2 separate regions of the Homo sapiens genome follow, and region 1 is linked to region 2. A link means that fine-mapping ties the variant in region 2 to the expression of a gene that starts in the linked region. Tissue or cell type: spinal cord. Region 2 holds a variant in brackets; the other region holds the start of a gene. All regions are shown on one strand. Distances are between the middles of the regions.

Region 1 (2,889 bases), 240 kb before region 2:
GCCAGGGCAGCGCCTCGGTTTCCTTCCAATTCATTCTCGATTCCCAGATACTCAGATGAGAAATCCGCACTCAGGCCGTCAGGCTCCTGGGCCCGGGCCACCCTGCCTGCGCTCAGCCCGGCCCCTCCGCCGCAGCGCCTCGGAGTTTGGGGGCTACAGGGGAAGAGGAAGCGTCTGGTCGGCTCCCGTCCGAGCTGCTCCACCTGCGCCGCTGGCCTTTCCGCCCGCTACGCACCTGGGCCCCGAGAGGCCAGAGGGGAGTGTCCCCAGTGGCCCGGGTCCCCGAAGGTGGCCCAGCTCGGGCGCTCGCGCAGCCGGGTACTCACCTTGGGGGCGCGGCGGCAGGAGAGCGCGGGCGGAGAGGTGCGGGCGCCCTGGGACGACCAGCCGAGGACGCCTGGTGTTTGGACGGCTGCCCCCGCGCTGTCCCCCCGTGCGAGGCGTGTTGGCCTCCGTGGCCTCGCGAGGGACCGAGGGCGGCGGGTCCGAGTGCCGCCCGCCGGCCTGGGCAGTGGCGGAGCGCGGAGCTGGCGGCGCCTCCGCTGTTGTTTTTGAGCCGCGAAGCCCGAAGCAGCAGCCGTTGGGTGGGGGCGAAGGGGAGGAGGCGGGGGCCGGGAGGCGCGAGGGGGGCGGTGGGGCCCGGAGGGGGCTTCGGAGGAGCCGGGTTCTGGCGCGCGAGCCCCGACGCCCCCTCCAGCGATCGCAGGGCGGGGACGGGGGCCGAGGGGAGAATGCAGGAGAAAAGCGGGCCGGGGCGACGGGGAACGCAAAGCTTTTAAATTAGTAATCAAACGCAGTAAAACGGAGCAAAACCAGCCCGGACTCGCGTCCGAACTATCGGCGCGTGTGCCCCGAGATCCAAGGAAGTCGTGTGGAAAACCGCAGCCGCCGCCCCATCTTCGGCCCCGGCTGGGGCGGGAGCAGCAGCGCGACGCGCCGCGACGCAGGGGCAGGGTGGGGGGATAGTCACCTCGCCTCCGGGGCCACCTGGGTCCTTTTAAAGTGTCCGGGGTGCGGGCCCCGGGCGGGAGCGCCGAACACGGAATGTTTTCTTAAAGGGCCAGTTCCGAGCTGCGCTGAAAAGGGGGGGGGGGAGAGGGGGGAGAGATAAGTGAGACGAAGACCGAGAAGGCCGAGGAGAGCCCCCCAATCCCGCGCCGAGGCGGCGGCGGCGGCGGCGGCGGCGCGACGATGAGGATGATGAATACATTGCAAAGTTTTTTTGGCCCCGGCGAGGGGTGTCAGATTGAGTGCTCTGTGCGCATGTGCGAAGGTGTCCAAACTGACAATGCTGGGGAGATGAAGATAGTGTGTGGCTGCTTCTGGACTCAAGGAGGAGGAGAGAGATTCCGCGAGCCGACACCATGCGATCCAAGGCGAGGGCGAGGAAGCTAGCCAAAAGTAAGTCTCCCGCGCTCGGCCGCGCCGCGCCGCCGGGGCCCGGGCCGCCGGGCCGGGGCGCCCGGGCCAGGGGTGCGCGTCGGGGCGCGGCCGGCGCGCCTGCGGCTCCGGGCCCCCGGCTCGGCCGCGCGGCCCGGGGGGCTGCTCCGCCTCCCGCGCTCCGGGGCGACCGGGCTCGGCGCGGAGGCTCGGGGCGCCCGGGCCGCGCGCTCCCCGAAGGCGCCGGCCCCCTCCCCGCGGAACCCCCTCCCCCCCCACCAGTGTCAGGCGCTCGGGCCCGGGAACCCGAGGCGCGCGGTGGGGGCCGGGGAGGGGGGCGGAGGGGGAGGGCCGGGGGTGGAGGGGAGCGAAAAGTGAAAGTTAGCGAAAAGTTGACGAAAGGGGAGAGCAACTTTTTCCTCCCCGCTCGCTCTCTCCCTCTCTCTCTCCGAGTGGCTCTCAGTCCTGGTCAAATCATATTCCGGGCTTTTGAAATAGTGGGCGCTAGAGCACCGCCTTTGGCGTCCGCCAGCCGGGCGCAGAGGAGGGAGACCCCGAGCCGGGGAGGGGCGGAGGAGGGGGCGCGGGCCGGCGCCCACCCGGCTCCGCGGGCGCAGGGGCAGGGGTGGCGACGGCGGGACAGCCGCAGCCACTTGGGGAGCAAAATGGAGACTTTTGCCCGGGCTGGGAACTGTGGTCGTGAAGTTTATCCCCGGCTGTGCCCCGCGTGGTGGAGGGCGCTCCTCTGGGACGCCGGCAGCCTGCGCGGGCCGCCGGGGCGACAGTGCCTCCGACAGGAGGGACCCACCCGGCCACCTCCCGACCCGCCGCTGCCGCCCTCGGGCCCGCGTGGACCCCTCTGTACCCGCTTGCCTGGCACAGCCGGGCCCGGCGGGGACAGAGCTGCCCCGGCCAGGCTGCCCGGTCCTCGGTCTTACTTTCTCTTTCGCTCCGTCTCGGCCGAGCCCCGGGCTCCGCGCGCCCCGCCTGCCGCCAGCCGGTCCTTGCCGCGGGCCGGGTGCTCCAGCCACCCGCGCCCTCGCCCGCCACAGCGCCTCCGAGCAGCCCGCGCGCACCCCGCAGCCCCGGTCGCCGGCGCCATCCGCGGTGAGGCGGGCGGGCAGGTGAGGACAGGCGGAGCCGCGGCCCGGCCAGCGCGGCTCCCGCAGCCCCGCCGAAGCCCCGGCTGCAGCGAAGCGGCCAGCGCCGCGCGGAGCGGAATCGGCGCCGCCTGCTCCCGCCGCCCCCTCCTCTGCAGGCCGCCCGCCCGCCCACCCGCAGAAGAGGCGCCCGGGCCGCTCCCCTCGAGGTCCCCGCCCGACCCACGCCGTTCCGTCCGCGCCTCCGGGGCCGGGTCCCTCCAGGCCGGCCTCGCAGCTCCCGGGGCCGAGCCCCCAAACGTGAGCCGGGTGCGCGCGGGACTCGCGGCGGTTTTCCGAAGCTCCGCTCCCTCGGCTCGGGGCCCGCCCGGCTCGTCCCAACAGCTGCCCCGCGGCCGTAGGCCCCGCG
Region 2 (2,889 bases):
TGGGTGAGCCCAGTTCTGCCCGACCCCGAAGGCACCCCCAAAGCTGATTTCACACCCAGGAGAGTGATCTGGGGTCCATCTGCCTCCTTCCCCAAGGAAGCTTGGGTTCGACATCTTTCTCAGAAGGCCCCAGATCTGAGACAGCCCTGCCTCCCAGATAGACCCAGAAGGCCAGATGCTCAGCCCACCCCACCCTGGGTCCAGAGGGGCTGCAAAGCTGCCAGTGCCTCACAGTCGCTCTACAGCTTTGCAGGTCAGCTCCCGGGGCCCCCGTCCAGAGTTCCAGACCAGCAGCATCCAGCCAGGTGCTCAGGGAGCCCCAAGAAAGCTGCTTGAGAAGGCTCTGGAGTGTCCAGCCCAGGAGTGCGGCTCATGGGCAGACTGTAGGGTTCACATCGCAGCCCGGCTGCTCCCCCATGCGACACCCTGCTCTCTGATCCTGACTCCCCCACCTTCCCACGTGTGAAATGGGATGTGCTGCTGGGTTTAAATGAGATCTGACTCCAAAGCACAGAGCTCGGCCTGGCCCATCTCGGGCCCTCAGTGGACATCCATGGCGCCGTCAGCATCCTCGCCCCACTGGGTTATTCCCACGCTCATCCTCTGAGGAGGAGCAGCCCAGCACTCAGCGGCCTGCAGGCTGGCGGGGTTGGTAGCAGCAGCCTCTCACTGGGCCGGTGACATGAGGATCACTGGGACAGGCACGGGTGTGGTGGGACCACAGGGCCCCGAGGGCAGCAGGCAGCCCCCAGCCTCCTCCGAGGTCTGTCCTGGAGGCTGGCCGCCCACCCGCCGGCTGCACCTCACAGCCGCTCCTCCCCAGCCTGCTGGTGTCTGACGTTGGCATCCCCTCTGTGGGATACATCAGGAGCCCATCCGGATCCGGGGCCGGCAGGTGGGGTTCCCGGGATGGGTTGGGAGTTCCCAGAAGTCCGGTGAGGGGCTTTCGGAAAGGGACCGTGCACCCTCCTGTGCAGAACCCGGCCTCGGCCAAGCTGCAGGCTCTGACGCTGGAATTGAAACTTACACAAATACTCCGCCGCTTTTCAGGCATGTTCCAAGGAGACATTTATGTTGGCTGAGGCGGTATTTTCCTTTTATTGCTGTTATGAGATTCAACATTTTTTCCAGAAATAACTTCTGAAAAGTGTGCCTAGATTTTGAACACTTGTGATCCTAACATGTGGTGAGAAAGGCTTTTCAAAACACACACGTGTGGACAGAGGTCCACACACGGATACGTGTGCACACACGGGTGCCTTGGGCGTGCGTCTTCCAAAAGGGGCGAGTACAGCTATCAACTTGTGACTTCCAGGAGGCCTGGGTTTGCCTACGAAGGGGCCGTGTTCCCAGTTGGCGTTCACACGTGGTGTACACACACAGGCACAGGCACCGTGTCCCAAGGCCATCTCCCAAGGGCACCCGCAGACACTGGGCAGCCTTCTCCGAAGCTGTCAGTGTCCTTCCTCGTGAGAGGATGATGAAGAGGATGTGGTTTC[C/T]GCCGCCTCATCCACAGGCCGGCTGCCCACGGAGCCTTAGACATCGAGGCCAGAGCGACTGTTGGAAAGGAATGTGACCGCGCTGTCTATGAAATGCCGCGGAGCTGGAGCCCCACTCGCCGTCACGATGAGTCAGCGCCGAGCGGTGAGTCAGAAGGGGAGAGCTGAGCTCCCAGACCGGAGGGCGGCACTTACCAGAAGCCTGTGTGCTGACCGGCCTGGTCTCCTTTGACGTCTCGAGCAGCTTGGCAGGGTGGGAAAAGTAGCCTGAGAGTGATCCCCGGGCAGTGTCCGAGGCTCTGCCGTCCCCACCCCCACAGGCATCCAGGGGAGAGAAACAACCTGGAAAGAGGAATTCAGATGTGAATGGAAACTTGTATCCAAAATTTGAAATAGTCCCTTTGGGCCTGCTCAAGAGTCCTTCCCTCCCAGCCCCTCACCTGCGCCTGCGAGGCCGTGCGGACCCCGCTCCACTCACCCCGCCTGGGGGCCAGAACCACCTCCCAGGGGCTTCCGCCAGTGCCGCAGTTGCTGACCCCAGGCAAACCTCGCCGCCTCCTGCCCCGGCGGGCCTGGGATTTGCGAATGTGTGAAGGCATTAGCTGCCAGTTGTAACTGGAACGCAGCCTAGAGGCCTCACTCCTCCAGCAGGAAGCCTTGTAGTGCAGCGAATCTGGACCCGGCCCAGCGTCCAGAGACAGGAAGCATTAATAGGAGCGAATGTGAACACTGTTCGCGCCCTGGCTGCGATTTATTGCCGATTGTGGGGAAAACATCAGTTGGTTGCAGAGTTTCATTCATCTGAATATGAAATGTAATTAGGGAGTCACCCAGTGTCAGACCCCAAGGAATAAGGTCCAGGCATGGGACCCTCGCCCCCGAATGCCGTCCTTCCCCACCGGGGGGGGGGGCGGGAACATAAAATGGACCCAAGTCACTGTCCCTTAAGGAGCGGACCGCCTGAGCCCTGGAGTGGCCCAGGGAGTCCTGAGTGCAGGGTTTCCAGGACCGTGACAAGGTTCTCCCACGTGGTGGGGGAGGACCGACCTTTAGGGACAGGACCGGTGTGTCTGGGTGGCAGTTTAGAGAGCTGGGACAGTCTGCATCACTCTGGGTGGCTCCTCTCAACCCTGGTGTGCCCTAGACTGTTTCTGAAATCGGTCCTGGAAAGGAGAGGGAGAGAGAGATGGTGTCTCTGTACCGAATCGGAAGGATTTGTTTTTGTGTAGCTAATGAGGTAGCAAAGACAGTCTGCAGGTCAGAGGAAGGCCACGATGAGGATGGGGACAAGGAGAGCTCCTGAAACCCTCCCACCTTACAAAGTCCCCCAGCCTCCCCACATAGTTATCCTGCTCCATCCAGGAGCAAACTTCATCTGCCAAATGTGTGT

The links. PIP is the estimated chance that this variant, and not a neighbour inherited with it, causes the effect.
Region 1: PRDM16 starts here. The variant in region 2 is fine-mapped to the expression of PRDM16 in spinal cord (GTEx, PIP 0.97).

The regions. Positions count from the first base shown.
Region 1 is chr1:3,067,896-3,070,784 of GRCh38, forward strand. It overlaps PRDM16 (PR/SET domain 16), which reads left to right and starts at 1,308. Exons shown (of 17, transcript NM_022114.4): 1 at 1,308-1,401. The coding sequence starts at 1,365. It overlaps LOC124903827 (translation initiation factor IF-2), which reads right to left. Exons shown (of 5, transcript XM_047436614.1): 1 at 2,319-2,889; 2 at 327-1,076; 3 at 1-153. The coding sequence ends at 1,053. It also overlaps the pseudogene LOC100420339. RefSeq lists an enhancer at 1-201.
Region 2 is chr1:3,311,673-3,314,561 of GRCh38, forward strand. All of the region lies in intron 3 of PRDM16 (PR/SET domain 16), which reads left to right. It overlaps LOC105378604 (a long non-coding RNA gene), which reads right to left. Exons shown (of 3, transcript NR_188664.1): 2 at 1,695-1,841; 3 at 1-1,557. Among named protein-coding and RNA genes, the nearest start is that of ARHGEF16, 140 kb to the right of the region's middle. RefSeq lists enhancers at 1,026-2,225, 1,513-1,807, 1,564-1,613. The variant C/T (reference allele first, on the strand shown) is at 1,500.